2 separate regions of the Homo sapiens genome follow, and region 2 is linked to region 1. A link means that fine-mapping ties the variant in region 1 to the expression of a gene that starts in the linked region. Tissue or cell type: testis. Region 1 holds a variant in brackets; the other region holds the start of a gene. All regions are shown on one strand. Distances are between the middles of the regions.

Region 1 (8,185 bases):
GGCCAACATGGTGAAACCCTGTCTCTACTAAAAATACAAAAATTAGCTGAGTGTGGTGGCATATGCCTGTAATCCCAGCTACTTGGGAAGCTGAGGTACGAGAATCGCTTGAACCCGGGAGGAGGAGGTTGCAGTGAGCCGAGATTGTGTCACTGCACTCCAGCCTGGGCGACAGAGTGAAACCATGTCTCGACAACAACAACAAAAAAAGTGGTTATAATTTGATTATTAAAAATTTTAACGATTTGATCATCAGTGAAGTCATCCGTTTATCCAGTACCTATGGGGATGTTAGCAAATACATCCAACTGTCCCCCACGTCCCAGGGTGTATGATACCAGGGCGAACTGGTGTACTCATCCACTGCTCATTCATTCAGCACTTCATTTATACGTATTTACCTGCCGGGTAATGGGGAACCAGAACACAAAACACACGGGGCCTGCCCTCCAGGGCTCCCAGCCTGGTGGGTGAGCAGGATTCCAATAAGGGCAGATAGTGCAAGGCGCACCCTGACCAAGGTAAGTTCTAAGAGCTTGTGGGCAGGGCCAGGTGGAGTGAAAATCCTGAAGGACAGGGGTTTAACCAGGTGAAGAGGGCAAGAAAGATGTGCCTGGCAGCAGGTACTGAGTGTGCAAAGGAACGGAGGAGAGGGAGCAAGGAAGACAGGGAGAGACACATATCGAGGAGCTACAGATAATCTAGGGCCTTGTGCTCCAAGTGTCCCCAGGCAAGTAGCAGAAACCATCATCTGAGAGCTTCTTAGAAATGCAGAACCTCAGGCCCCAGTCCAGACTGACTGGCTCAGAACCTGCATTGAAGAAGATCTCAGGGATATTCCTATGTACATTTGAGTTTCAGAAGTTGTGGTTTAGGGCCAGGCGTGGTGGCTCACGCCTGTAATCCCAGCGCTTTGGGAGGCTAAGGTGGGTGGATCACTTGAGGTCAGGAGTTCAAGACCAGCCTGGTCAACATGATGAAACCCCATCTCTACTAAAAATACAAAAATTAGCCAGATGTAGTGGTGCGCACCTGTAATCTCATCTACTCGGGAGACTGAGGCAGGAGAATCGCTTGAACCCAGAAGGCAGAGGTTGCAGTGAGCTGAGATCACGTGACTGCACTCCACACTCCAGCCTGGGCGACAGAGCAAGGCTCCATCTCAAAAAGAGAGAGAGAGAGAGAGAAGCTCTGGTTTCTGGTTTAGGGTCAGGCTACAAATTAGGAAATATAAAGTTGAGGCCCCACCGGTAGGCAAGGATCAGGCCTCCAAGGGCCTTAAATGTCATGCTGGAGGCGACGGGGCATCAGTCCTGGAAGGGCTCTGCATAGGAAAGTGATGCAATCAGATTGGATTTTTAAAAGCTGACTCTGACTGCAGCATGGAGAAGGGCCAGCTGAGAGTGTGAGGGTGGCCAGACACAGCCAAGAGACCAGACAAGTAGCAGTTGCAGGGGATGGGGGAGAAATGAGAAGGGCTTGAGCGGGAGCAAAAGCAAAAGGAAGAGGGCCAGATGCAGTGGTTCACACCTGTAAGGAATCCTAGCACTTTGGGAGGCTGAGATGGGAGGATTGCTTGAGGCCAGGAGTTCAAGACCAGTCTGGTCAACATAGCAAGACCCCATCTCTATTAAAAAAAAAAAAAGCAGAGGGAATAGGAAGAGGGAGTGGGCTTGAGGGCCATTTAAGAAGTAAAGCTGGCAGAACTTGGTGACTTGGATGTAGGGATAAGGAAGAAAGAGGAATCAAAGAGAACTCAGGAATCTGGCCCAGGAAACTAGGTCAGTGGAGGTTGCCTCTGCCAAGGCTGAGGAAGCAAGGAGAGGGTGGGTCCCCTTTTGCGGTGTTGCCTTTGAGCTGCAGGCAGGGCAGCCAGGTGGCAATGCCAGGAAGCACCTGGGGACCCAGGTCTCCTGCCCAACAGAGCACTCCCCTTCCTCCCAGAGCACTTGCTGGTAGGACCCAAGGGCCTGCAGTGAGTAAGAGGTGGCTGAAATGGCAAGAATGTCTCCCCTGAGTGGATGGAGTAAGAAGAGAGATGTTGGGGGGACTTTGGGAGATAACAACTGTAAAGAGAAGAATGAGTGAAGACAGCTAGAGAGAGAAAAATGATCCCGAGAAATAGGAGCCACTCCAGAGGCCATTTAGGAAGAAAGAAGTGGATAATATTTACTCGAATCCTCTGTAGCATGGCACTAAGGACTGAGACCCCTCCACGATAGGTAATGGTTTTCTTTTCTTCTTTTTTTTTTTTTCTTTTTTGAGATGGAGTCTTGCTCTGTCACCCAGGCTGGAGTGCAATAGCCCGATCGCGGCTCACTGAAACCTCTGCCTCCCAGGTTCAAGCGATTCTCCTGCCTCAGCCTCCCAAATAGCTGAGATTACAGGCATGCGCCACCATGCCCGGCTAATTTTGTATTTTTAGTAGAGATGGGGTTTCTCCCTGTTGGCCAGGCTGGTATCGAACTCCTGACCTCAAGTAATCCGCCTGCTTCGGTCTCCCAAAGTGCTGGGATTACAGGCGTGAGCCACCACGCCCAGCCTTAGGTGATAGTTTTCAACTGGATGGCTACAACTGTGGATTTTAGACTTGGAACTGATTTTAGCTGCAGCATCTCCCAAACTTTTTTGACAATAAAAATCACCAGGGAGGTTCTTCATAAAAATAAAAATTCCTGCTTCCTGTCCCTGACCCACAGCATCAGAATCTCCAGTAAAGGGGCCTGCGAAACTATTTTTGAACAAGAACAACAGGTGATTCTCATCACCAGGGTTTGGGCAGCTGTCTCAGATCCTTGCTTTTCCAAACATTAACATTCATGAGAAACACCTGGGGCTCTTGAGCAACTACAGATTCTGATTCAGAAGGTCTGGGTGGGCTGAGATCCTGCATTGCTAAGAAGTCCCAGGTGACATCGATGTGGCTGGTCTGTGAACCACCTTTGAAGGAGCAAGGCTAGAAAAAACACCCGTCTCGTTTTGCAGGTGAGGAAACAGGTTCCGGGCAGGTAAGCCGTCGATTCAAGGTGACCCAGCTGGTTAGTGGCAAAGCTGAGATTTGTCAGGCGTGAGGGGGTAGCTCTGACTCATGACTCCATCAGGCACCCGTATTCTGCCTCCAGCGAGGTTAGCAGTTTGAGCGTGAGGTTAGTGAACAGATCATCAGCTTCAACGAGACATCTCTCTTGTTTACCTGCTTTTCACCCAGCTTGATTTTTCTCCCTTCGCATGATCCCGCCGGGATCTCTCTCCTTTCTTTCTCTTTTTCCCAAGCTTCCCCTCCGCAGCAGAAAGGCCAGATCAGGGCATGACTACAGCCTGCTAGCGGGGGCAGCTGGAGGATTGAGGGAGAGAGCCTTACCCAAGTGAGACCCTGCGGGGCGCCATCTGTTGCTACCAGCACAGCTCATTAAGCTGGCAGTGGGAGACGAGAAAGGCCCCAGAGCTTCCACACGGCAGCCTCAGGACATTCTCCGGGATCTTACGGGGAAAAGAACTTCCCGACATCTGTCAGGGACGCTGGAGACTGTTGGCTGGAACAGGGTGTGATGCTGGTGCCGCTTCCCTTGGTTAACTCCGCAGTGACGCTGAGATCTAGGCCAGGTGCCTCCTGGGCAGGAGCCAGGCCTGCTGCTCCTATGACATTGGAGAACAATTTTTGAGTTTGGATTCATTCGCAGACGTTTCTATGTCCTTCCCCCCACCGCCAGTGCTGCTTCCTGACTGCTCTTTTTCTTTTGTGCAGGTGGCAGCAGCAAGCACCCCCTGTTCTGTGTTGAATACACCCCTTACTGCTCCGTCTT[T/C]GCTTTCTCCCCTGTCCTGCAGCCCAATACCAATTACTGCTGCCTCCTCCTGCCACTAGTGCCACCTGCCTCCCCAGTGGCCCAGGAACCTCCTGACTGTCCTCTCCCTCTGGTTACCGTTCCCTCCTTCACAAGCACCGCTTCCACCTCCCCGGACCCCGTGCCCGAGTCCCCCGCCGTGCTGTGCTACTTCCCCATCTCCTGCCCCACTCCGGCTGAGACCCCTGTGCTGTGCCTTCAGGGCCCCAGAAGGCCCAGTAGGATTTACCTCATGTGGTAAGTCACTCTTGCAAGGCACACAGCACAGCGCAGTCGGGGAGAGGGGACTTCGGGCTTCCGGAAGGCAGGTGGACAGGAGAGGGGCCAGAGGCCACACCAAGAACAATACCAGGCGGCGTGGTGTTCGGGGGAGCAGGAAGATGGGACAGCGTGGCCACTGCACTGGGGCTGCACCTTCTAGCGCCAAAGGAGCGAGCGACCAATAAAATCCCATCCTCTCTGGAGACTCATTTGATTTCTTACCTCCTGTAGCTGGCACGCTGTGCAATGTCACCCCCAGAAACCAAACAGGCTCTCCTAATGCGTCTGATCATACCCTTGGCTATGTGAATGTGCACACGCCGAGGCCGCCCTGAGCGGTGGCACCGGGGGCAGGCCGTTCTGAAGGCACACACTGGAACCAAAACCCATTCAGAACCACTCGGAGGAGGGACAAATGAAAAGGCTCAGCCGATGTTTACATTCCCTTTCCTGCCTACTTATTAGGCATCACATTTCCTAAAATCAAAAATCCCACCCCTGAGTTCCAAAATAAAACATATTTATGGTACATAATTAAGCTTTAATTAAGATCTCCTCTGGGTACATGAGACAACACACATTTCTCGCACACTCAAATAGGCAAATAGACGCGACCTATTATTTGTGACTGCACAGAAAGCTGCCTATTACCCCAAGGCAACATTGGCTCCTGCGATTAAGCTGTAATTCTTCCCAGGATCCAAAGAAAGCACACTTTTTTTTTCAAAGAGTTGTCTCTCCATTGGGATCTTGGCACCTCCTAGGCACCAGAGATCCCAGTCAAAGTAATGTGGGGCGGGATAAGGGTTCCGGAACTGTATTTCCCTTTTATGCTTCCTTTTTGACTTTGTCTATAAAGAACTATCTGTGGATGACAAGTGTTGGGAAGAGCCGAACGTGAACAGCTGAATGGACTTGGTTCTCACTTGTCAGGGTCTTGTACAAATATAAGATTTCTACCTTTTTTTTCCCTTTCCTGGTCAAATTAAGAAGTCTTCAGTCGACAATCACAGTTTCCCAACATTGTCAAGAGAACAGAGGCAGATGCCTTTAATCTAAACAGCTGTTTGGTTTCTTTAAAACTGGAGGCATCACCTTTCTCAGATCCTGGAAGTAGGGGGTCTGTATGTTGTCCAAAGCAAACCAAAGTCTTCCCAAAATTCATTGATAAACAGGATATTGAGTTACCTGGCAGTGAAACTCCTGAACACAAACCCCTTCCTTTTCTGTAAGGCAAAGGGCTTGTCCTGCTACCTGAAAAGGAAGGTAATTTCATCGTCCAGGGTAAATAGGACTTGGTCTTCCTGCAGATTATGAATCCATGGACATGGTAAAGACCCATCCTAGCCCCCAAAGGTCTGAAATTTGATTCACTTTTCATGCAAGTGAAGTGATGGGAACTTGGTATACAAATTGAGGGTTCGAAACTCTTTTTCTAGACAATGTCGTGCTCTTGCCCAGGCTGGAGTGCAGTGGTGCAAACACAGCTCACTGCAGCCTCGACCTCCTGGGGCTCAAATGGTCCTCTTGCCTCAGCCTCCCATGTAGCCAGGACCACAGGTATGTGCCAGCACACCCAGCTAATATTTTTTATTTCTTTTTTTGTAGAGACAGGAGTCTCACTTTGTTGCCCAGGCTGGTCTCAAACTCCTGGGCTCAAGTGATCTTCCTGCCTCGGCCTCCCAAAGTGTTAGGATTACAGACATGAGCCACCATGCCTGGCTGAATGTTAGAATCTCTTTTTTGTTTGTTTGTTTGTTTGTTTGTTTGTTTTTGAGATGGAGCCTTGCACTGTCGCCCGGCCTGGAGGCTGGAGTGCAGTGGTGTGATCTCGGCTCACTGCAACCTCCGCCTCCCAGGTTCAAGTGATTCTCCTGCCTCAGCCTCCGTAGTAGCTGGGATTACAGGTGCGTGCCACCATGCCCAACTAATATTTTGTATTTTTAGTAGAGACGGGGTTTCACTATTTTGTCCAGGCTGGGCTTGAACTCCTGACCTCGTGATCCACCCACCTTGGCCTCCTAAAGTGCTGGGATTACAGGCGTGAGCCACCGTGCCTGGACCTAGAAACTCTTAAACCCATGTACACACAAACTGTGCAATCTAGGTCACCTCATTTGTGACTGCACTTACAGACAGAGAAGAGAAAATATTTTGCAAGAGTTTTGTTTTCCATGGAACCAAAAGGGTATCACAGGGAAGAAGTCAGCAGTGCAGCCAAATTAGATTATAATAATCTTTAAGGTCATGAGGCAACATCTTGTTCATCTTTGTGAACCCTCAAATTATAGCATAGCAAAGGCACACAGGTATTTGTTGAACAAATCATAATATAAAGAGTTGCTATTTGCCTTTTGGATTTTATAAAAGAAGGATTGAGGGAGAGAATCAACAAGAACTACACCGGAATGAAGGCTATTGAATAAGTTATTGCCAACCTGTGAAGTCTGCATAACAATGAGTTTCTGGTCAAATTCAGTTGTCTCATGGGAATGACTTCAGATTTCCCATTATTATTCTCAGTAGTAGTGGTAGTATTCTTTACAGTAGAAGAAGCAGCTACCATTATTAGCACCTAGCATGAACCAGTTAGGCCATTTATGTACATTTTTGCTAAACTTCACAGTAACAAGATGGACCATTTTACAGTTGCAGAAACTGAGGTTAAAGTTGCCAAAGGTCAGAGGATCCTGCCTACACTAATAGCAGCGATTTCTTCACTGCCAGGCCTAGTACAACAATCTCCAGTTGTTCAGCTTTATTATTTTAGTTTGCTGAGAACTTGATTAGAGGACACATGGTAATGGTTTTGGCAATCATTTAAGAGATCTGATGCTTTGAAGAAAGCAGTTTTTTTGAACAAGAAAACAAATTAAATAACCTTTTATCTTAAGCCATCTTGGGCGTTCTGCACAACAAAAAAATGTGTTCTAGTTTTGAAGTTCCCCTGTAGTTGGGCTGAATGCATCTTCTCAAGCCTCACAAATCATACTAATATTTGTCCTGCACGACAAGGCAATTAATACTTGTCCTGCACAGCAGTATGAGGCAACGTGTAGACTGGCTGAGAGACGATCCTCATTCTTAAGGAGCGTGCAGGCTAGTTGGAGAGAAAAGACATACTCATTAAGCAATTTTAGAATATTTAAACACTAAAGGCCATTTTTTAAAAACGCTGAAAGTAAGGGTTTTTTCCAAAGCAGAGTCAGAGCCGACTTGGTGGAATAAACCGGAAACAGACCTCGGAGGACCTTCTGGCTGGTGCAGTCTGGGGAAGAAAGGTCCCATGAGCAGAAGCATCCCTCCCTGTGAAGGTGAATGCAGTGGCGGGGCTCAGTGGCCTCTGGGCAGTGTGAAGTTCTGCTGCCTGGGGTGCGTGGGAACTTTGAATATTCTGCTGGGATTCCTGCTGGAAATCAAAGTGAAATTCTTATCCTCAGGACCTTGGGGCCAGGTCCTGACCTTCTAGACTTGGCCTGAGCCCCACGCCTGCCCCTTCCCTGGCCCTTCTTCTGTTTCTTCCTCTTCTCTCCATGAGTTGGAAAGCAGGAGGCAGGACTTCTGAGAACTGAGGGGGTCTGAGGTCTCAGGTGATAAGGGAGAAGCTTCTATGTTCAAGGAATGCAACTTTTGGTAGTGGGAAAATGCTTCCCTCCTTCCCTCAGTGATGGATCCCTTAGTGTAAAACACCTGATCCCTCTCTCTCTCTCTGTCTTTCTGTCTCTCACTCTCTCACCTTCCTCCTCTCACCCCCTTTTTGATCAGCAAAATCATGTCTAATCAACATCCTACGCCATCCCAAGACTATCTTCTCATTTTCCAGAGAACTTTCACTCTCTCCTTTCACACCTACAACTTCTCTGGGCTCCACCAACTTGCCCCAAGTTGCTCCGACACCACCAGCAGCTTCCCTCTTCTAGTAAGTTCCCTGCGGGGCATGATCCTCTCTGTCTTGGCCTGCAGGACCCACTGCCATGCCCTCCTGGGGCCCGTCAGAAGTAAGTAGACCTAGTCATTGTATTAAATTAGGTTTCATGGGCTGCCAGAAAGAACTTTAATTCCCTTCCTGAATCTGGAGGAAA
Region 2 (8,144 bases), 58 kb before region 1:
CCTAGAGATTCTTTTTGCAAACAAACTGCCGCAGTTCATGCTGTGTGCATGGATGAAGGCAACACCACACTGGCCTCAATGATGAGAACAGGAACCCATTAGTCATGGCGAGATCCCATGACCAAGGCAAAAATGACCAAGTTTAAGTTGTATCTGAGGGAGGCCATCTGCTTCTGAAGTCACTTGGCATAAAACTCTATGCCCAATAGGAGAGCTTCTGAATAGTTAGTTACAAAGAGACTCTTTTAGTTAGACTCTCTCTCTCTCTTAGGAAGAGAAAATATTAGGCAGATAGAGGGTGGGGTGCTCCAGCTCAAGTGAGTAGCTGGGCCAGGTGTCCATGAAGCTGTTGGATATCCCTGTCTCAAAAACCTTGGGAGACTTAGAATGTATGCCTATTCCTCTGCACAGCTTACTCTTTGCATTAAATATTTCCCTCAAAAGTGTTATTTCTGAAACTTAATACACAGTCTACTTTTGAAACTTTATACTTGAAGTTGTTCTTTGCAGAACTCTTAGATATAATTAAAGAACTTTTTCATGCTTGCTATGGTCTGAATGCTTAGGTCCTTCCAAAATTCATGTTGACTCTTAATTCCCATTGTAGTGGTATTAAGAGGCGGGCCATTTGGGAGGTGACTAGGTCATGAGGACTTCACCATGATGAATGGTATTAGGGCCCTTATAAAAGAGGCTTGAGGGAGTTTGTCCCTTCCACCATATGAGGATGCAAAGGGAAGATGCTATATACAAAACACAGTGAGCCCTCACCAGACACCAAATCTGCAGATGACCTGATCTTGGACTTCCCAGCCTCCAGAACTGTAAGCAATACACTTCTGTTGTTTACAAATTAGCTAGTCTAAGGTATTTTGTTAGATCAGCAGGAGGGAGCATTAGAATCTACCATCCACTTAAGTCTTAAGTTTTTTTGTTTACTTATTCATCTCTACCAGGAACATTGTGCAGGAAATAATGAAGAGTAGGATCCTTTCCCCAACCAGGAGAAGTTTTTCTTCTTCATTTTAATATTTCTCCTCCTAAGGACTTTGCTTTTTAATGCCAGAACTAATCTTATTTGTAATTTACATGCCTAGCTTAAATTTACTCATTAAACACTAAAGTTGGAGTTGCTCTATAGCTTTTTATGAGCTGACCTTGGGCACTATTACCCTCTTTCAAAGGCACCATGATTTTTTCATATAACTTAATTTTCAAGAACACTTGACATGTGGAAGAGTTTAAAGCTGAGATATGAAGTGACTTCTCCAGACCTTGTTATTTAAAAATCTTTAGGCTGGGCACAGTGGCTCACACCTATAATCCCAGCACTTTGTGGGGGCCGAAGAGGGTGGATCACCTGATGTCAGGAGTTTGAGACTGGCCTGGTCAACCTGGCAAAACTCTGTATCTACTAAAAATACAAAAATTAGCTGGGCATGGTGGCACGTGCTTGTAGTCCCAGCTACTCAGGAGGCTGAGGCAGGAGAATCGCTTGAACCTGGGATGCGGCAGTTACAGTGAGCCAAGATCGCGCTATAACACTCCAGCCTGGGTGACAGACTCTGGCTCAAAAAAAAAAAAAATTAAAAAATTAAAAATAAATAAAAATCTTTAAATATTTACGGTTAACATTCACATGCAATAAAATCTTAAGTTATGCCTTATAAAGCAAAGCTACCAATTATTGAGTGCTATGTGCCAAGCATGATGTGAAATGCTTTGCTTGTCCTCTCTCATTTAATTCCCACAGCAAGCTTTTGAGATAGATAGTATTATTTTAATAGATCTTGTCTGGGTACAGGAAGTACCAAGGTGCTTTTCTTAGTAGTGGGCAACATCAAGTTACTGGAGATGGAAAGCCCTGTTTTTGAACCCTGGTTCTGGTACTTACCATATGTTCTGGTCATGTCCCTTACCTTCAACAAGGTGAGAACCTGGGCTTCAACTTCCTCCTCTGTTATTTTTATTTGAGGTGGGTCCTCGCGCCAACAGAACAAGCTCCCTACCTATCATTTCACTATTATAGTTTCAACCCAGTGTGCGCATCCAAACTTTTTTTTTTTTTTTTGAGACAGAGTTTCTTGTCGCCCAGGCTGGAGTGCAACCTCCGCCTCCTGGGTTCAAGCAATTCTCCTGCCTCAGCTTCCTGAGTAGCTGGGTTTACAGGTGGCTGCCAGCACACCTGGCTAATTTTTGTATTTCTAGTTGAGATGGGGTTTCACCATGTTGGCCAGGCTGGTCTCAAAACTCCTGACCTCAGGTGATCCCCCTGCCTCGGCCTCCCAAAGTGCTGGGATTACAAGCGTGAGCCACCATGCCTGGCCCAAAGCATATCCTTTTGAAAGGCAAAAACCATGAGGCAAGTTCTTAGGTTACATCCTTATCAGTTAATACTTCAATTATCAGTTAATGCTTTACTAAGGAATACTTGATAATCAGCTGAGAACAAGAACAGAATATGGACTGGGCTACTAGAGATGAAAAGATCCTAGGGTCTGCTGGAGGACCAGCGAAGTTCAGATGGGAAAGTGCCCAGTGGAAAGACTTCAGCTAAGTACATTTGTCTAGACTCTGCCCAGCTCATGATATGTCTTTGAAGCTGGTGTGAAGGCAAGGAAAAATGTTCAGTGTGTAACACATAGTCCCATCTGGCTGAAGTATGAGTGAAGAAGTGATGAAGGGGAAAAACCAAGAAAGGAAACTGTGGGGGAGGGCACAGGGAAAGTCATAGTGACGAGTTTGGACTTCATTCCACAGGCGGTGAGGAACCTTTCAGGGCTTTTTAAGCAGGGGGCCAGCAACATTAGATGTAGGCTGCTTATAGGATGGGGGAAATGGTGAAGATAGGGTGTGGAGGACAGGCGCCCAGGGTGTGACCAGGAGGCCCTCAGAATAATCCATGGAGCCCAAAACTAGGTCATGGAGCCCAAAACTAGAGTGATAAGAATAGAAAGAAGAATGTGACGCTGCCAAGGACTTGGCACCAACTGAATGGGGGGAAGGGGAGGTGTTGAGAAGACGGTCAAACCACAGACACCTAGGGATTCCGGGCACTGATGAAAGTTCCAAGAATTTCTATTCTTCCTTTACCTTACTCTCCACTCAATCAAAAATACCCTAACTTGACATCAGTTGACAAGTTGAGAGCCTAAATATGCAAAGTAAATAGGGGAGTCATCTTTGCCCATGAGAACCACAGACAGACATCAACCCGGCAAAGCCGGGCAAGGTGGCTCATGCCTGTAATCCCAGCACTTTCGGAGGCCCAGGCGGGCGGATCACTTGAGGTCAGGAGTTCGAGACCAGCCTGGCCAACATGGAGAAACCCCGTCTCTACTTAAAAAAAAAAAAAAAATACAAAAACTAGCCGGGTGTGGTGGCGCATGCCTGTAATCCCAGCTACTCGGACGGCTGAAGCATGAAAATCGCTTGAGCCCCGGAGGCAGAGGTTGCAGTGAGCCAAGATCGTGCCACTGCACTGTCCAGCCTGAGCTACAGAGCAAGACTCTGTCTAAAAAAAAAAAAAAGAAAGAAAGAAAAAAAAGAAAAGAAAAGAAAAGAAAAAGAAAGAAATCAACCTGGCACAGAGAAGGTGAGGGTAGTAGCGGTTCTGGTGCCCTGGCTCCAAAGCTGTAGGGCCTGGTCTAGGCCTCTAAGCACCTCTCTCCTTGGAAAGGGGGTGAAGACGACTGATTACGAAGAGGCCTGGGCTCTAATGTCGGTTCTGCCACTGACTGGGTGCCTGGCTTCATCGCTTATTTCTTCTTTTTCGTGTTGGACCAGAGCATTCCAGATGTCCTCTGCAGAGGTCGAACTCCAGGACTGCAGTATCTTTTCCTCTTCGCATGTACCGCTTTTCACATTCCCTGATTCCATTAAAAATATTTTCCTCTCTCGTTTTCTAATCTCATTTTTTATGAAGCACAGCACCCTTTCAGGGAAGGGAGCAGAGGCCTGGATATCTGGGTCTGGGCTTGGGCACCCAGACAAAGCCAACCGCCTCCTCCTTGGGCATCTCTTCTCTGCCCACCAGCGTGGCTCTGACTCCCCGACTGCAGCCCGCCTCGTTCCCACGGCAACCGGCGGGCGCCCACGACTGGCTTGGGACCCCGGGGCCACAGCCCCGCCCCGCCCCGCCCCGTGCTCTCGGCGGCTGCACCTGGTCGCGCGGGGGCGGGGAGGCGCGGTTGCTAGGGAAACCGGAGGACGCCCGGTAGCCGCCCCCACCGCCTCCGCCCCAGGCAAGGCCGGCCGGCGCCGCGGAAAGCAGCCTCGGGGAAGGAGGAGGAAGAGGGGCAGGTGTAGGGAGTGAAGAAGCAAAAAGAGGAGGAGGAAGAGGAGCTCAGGGCCGTCCCCGCGCAATTAATGGGCGGCTCCTGCGCCCTGGACCGGCCCGCCCGCCCAGCCCCTCGACCCCTGTAGCCCCGGCAGGGGAGGAAGGGCAGACCCACAGGTAACGGCCCCCTCGCCCCCGCCGCTCCGCTCCAGTTCTCCCAGGATGGGGGACAACCTTCCCTTTCGACTTACAAGATTCTGGAGGGAAACCGGGCCTGACATCCGGTGGCCTGGCCGTCCCCTCCCCTCGGCTGACCCCAGCCCCAGCATTTTTCTGTCTCAGAGGGACAGGTTTGGGGGAGACCGTGAACCTTTGCTCACTGGCACCCACATTCTTTCCTGCAGACGCCACTGGTCAGAAAAGGTATACACAGACCATGGCCCACTGGGCTTCTGAATGCGAAATGGTCGATATTGATTTTGTTTATTTTTGAGAAGGAGTCTCGCTCTGTCTCCCAGGTTGGAGTGCAGCGGTGCAGTCAGGGCTCACTGCAGCCTCGACCTCCCAGGCTCAAGCGATCCTCCCGCCTCAGCCTCCCGGTGGTAGCTGGGACCACAGGCCAACACCATGTCTGGCTAATGTTTTAAATTATTTGTAAAGAAGGGGTCTCGTTATGTTTCTCTGGCTGGATATTGTTATTAATGATGGCACTGAATTGCTTGTCAAACCTGTGACGTTTCCTCCCCCAGAGTTTCCCAATTACACGTTGAGTTTCTCCTCTCTTCTGGGCTTGATGGTCGAAATGTGACCACCTATCTCTCCTAGTTTCACAGTAAAATGAAGAGTCACCGCCAAACACAAGTCTGTTCCCCACCCTCCACCCCGCCCCCAACTCTTAAGCCAAATTGGCTGGAAGAGTTGAAAGATCTCCTTACCTTTCCCAACCAATTCCCCCTTTTTCTCTGCAGTCACAGTATTCTTAAATTGGGCCCAAATCGTAAACTTTGTTGCTTATACTCAAGACATGTTTATAAGCTAAGACTTTAAAATGCAAAGTTTTTTTTAGAGCTAAGATTTAAACAAATCCTATAATGTCTGACATTACAAATTAATCAATTGGGGAAAAGGTTGAATAAGGTCTCCTGAAATCCTTCTCCAATCACCTAATTGTGGAAAGGGAGTAATTTTCGAGCCTGATTGTCCGGTATTAACAATAGCCATTTAGATTTTATTTCAAAGCAACCTTCCGTCTAAGGAGGAGGTTAGATTGTTTACATTTCCTTTATTGCTTAACAGCATATTAACTTTAGTGATGTCTTTCTCTTATGAGAACATAGTAAGAAACCAATAAGACTTTGATTGTTATTAAGAACAGGCTCCTTCAAATCAGTTCTTTTGACAAATGTGGTCATAAAACAGAGGGATGGTACGTATGCATGACTTTTAGAGCACTGAAAAACATTCTGCAATCAGATTCTGTTCCCCTCAGTCAGGAAAACTTGGTTGGAATTCACTGGAAAATTACACTAGAGAAGAACGTGTATGTCACAAAGTTCTTAGAATATTCCCCCATTAAAATTTCACAGATATGTAGAATTTTGAGGCCAAGAAGAATTACTCGCTCTTGCTTTCAGCAAGGCAGGACCCCCTCCTTCCTTCTCCACCTGCCTCCAACTCCCTCCTCCTTTCTCTCTCCCTACTTAATATGGCTTCTTATGTTGATTTCTAAAGCACAGATTTGGCACAAGACATTATCACCAGAAAGACTTAAAACAGAAGTGTGCATAACCATGAGTGGGTTTTAAATTAAGAAGCAGTTCAAAGGTGAGCGATAGAAGAGAATACAGAGTGCTATTTTAGAAACATGCGCCTTGCTCACATTTTATTATCACCCCCACCCCAACCCTCTGTGTTTGCTGGGGAAAAATTCTTGGCTTCAAGTGGCCATCTGGTTGAGTAGGCCCACAAAGCTGAGATCCATGAATTAAGCATTATCTCATGTAGTTTTATTTCCATACTGTTATTTCTGTTTCTTGTTCATCCTGGTCAGTTTTTCAAACTGACTGAGTGCAGTATGAACTTCAAGCAAACACAGAGAATGTTTGCTTATACTGAGGTAACCCACCATCTTCTTGGTCTGACACTAATACCGTTTTCTTGGTTCCCGTAATATTTGTTTAATCTCATGAAGACTTGATGTATTTAAATAAAAAATTACATGTGGCACCACGATGTTTCTAAATATTGTAAAATACAATGTAATAGAGAGTTTATGGGAAGGAAGAGAGACTTTTGTAGGCAATTTTATTTTTATTATTTTATTATTATTATTATTATTTTTTTTTATTTTTGAGGGGATGGAGTCTCTCTCTGGAGTGCAGTGGTGCGATCTTGGCTCACTGCAACCTCCGCCTTCCAGGTTCAAGTGATTCTTCTGTCTCAGCCTCCCAAGTAGCTGGGACTACAGGAGTGCACCACCACGCCCAGCAAATTTTTGTATTTTTAGTAAAGATGGGGTTTTGCCACGTTGGCCAGGCCGATCTCGAACTCCTGACCTCAAGTGATCCACCTGCCTTGGCCTCTGTAAGTGCTGGGATTACAGGCATTTTAAAGTCCTTTATTTGGTAGGTGATTGTGAAGTCAGAGGTAACTTAGCAAGTAATTCAAAGGGTGCTACTTCCTATTTAGACAAAGTTATTTCATGCCTCTTGACTTAGAAGCCTCCTTAAATTAACCCTGCTCTAAAGCCGTGATAGATTAACCGGCTTTCTATATTAACTTTGGCAACCAAAATGTATCATCCAAGTGGACTCTGGGATGCTCCCCTTTAGTGACCATTAACATATTTTTATTATGAGTCTTTATGGTCTCTGCCTGAATAAGATTCAGACAGGCTTCTCTTTCCCACAGTAGCAGCAGGAGCTTATCCTTCTGCCTGTTTTAACACCATCGTTTTCTGAAAAGAGTGCAAAGGTAACTTCATTCTATGCAGGTACACATTCAGATGAAAAGCTAAAAGTGATCTTTTAAAACATAGTCCCATAAGTGATTATTAAAATGCTTAGAGACAAAATGTATGTTTTGTGTGTAGACTGGAAATACACATTGGATTGTAGTTTCAGATTCTGACTGTCAAAAGACCAACTTTCCATACTCCAGAGAAAATAGCCCCCAAGAGACGAGCACAAGTTTTCCCCATTGTTCAGGGCCAGATGATAAACCATGTGAGATTTCATAACTACCAGACCAGACGCTGGGTCACCATGAGTCCGGGGCGGCCTGACTCTGCCAATATCTGCACAACTGAATAAACAGGAGGAGCGAGGGAATGCCGCAGAACGTATACACCTGAAGGTAGAGATGTCGCCTGTCCCATCCTGATGTTTCCCCAGAGCCTAGCAGCCCTTGTCACACACAGCAGTTGTAAAAAATATGTGTGTGTGTGTGTGTGTAGAAATAAATGAAAGAGCTTCAGTAGACAACAAACAGGAATAGTGTGGGGGCTTTGATGACCCCATAGATGAGGGGTCGTTATTAACAGTGCCATTTTATCCCTTTGTGAGCTTAGATATCTTGGCCATAAATTTGGGCCATGCCAGTCAAAGCCAAACTTCTTGAAAGCATGATCTCCACGCCTTTGCCTCCCATTTACGCAACCTTCTGCAGCCCTCCCAGCCCCGTCACTCCAATGAATGCTCTCACCAAGGTTATTAATAGCCTCCTTTTTGAAACCCTCTCTTCTGGGCATCTCTGAAACGGCACCCACCTGGTTTCTTCCTGCCTCTCTGGCTTTTTCTTTTTTTTCCGCAGAGTTTCTCTTCAGCGGCTTGTTCTCTAAATATTCGTGTTCTTCACGAGGTTTTGT

Direction of the effects. Alleles are on the strand shown, and positions count from the first base shown. SD is a standard deviation of normalised expression in the study named.
For the expression in testis of the gene that starts at base 4,219 in region 2, T is the low allele of the variant in region 1 and C is the other (small effect, 0.21 SD a copy in GTEx).

Evidence for each region. PIP is the estimated chance that this variant, and not a neighbour inherited with it, causes the effect.
Region 2: MARCHF10 starts here. The variant in region 1 is fine-mapped to the expression of MARCHF10 in testis (GTEx, PIP 0.99).

What each region holds. Positions count from the first base shown.
Region 1 is chr17:62,746,097-62,754,281 of GRCh38, reverse strand. All of the region lies in intron 4 of MARCHF10 (membrane associated ring-CH-type finger 10), which reads left to right. Among named protein-coding and RNA genes, the nearest start is that of MARCHF10-AS1, 44 kb to the right of the region's middle. RefSeq lists enhancers at 3,271-3,879, 3,880-4,489. The variant T/C (reference allele first, on the strand shown) is at 3,804.
Region 2 is chr17:62,804,389-62,812,532 of GRCh38, reverse strand. MARCHF10 (membrane associated ring-CH-type finger 10) reads left to right here and starts at 4,219. Exons shown (of 11, transcript NM_152598.4): 1 at 4,219-4,456. MARCHF10-DT (MARCHF10 divergent transcript) reads right to left here and starts at 4,031. Exons shown (of 2, transcript NR_135634.1): 1 at 3,582-4,031. RefSeq lists a silencer at 4,181-4,330.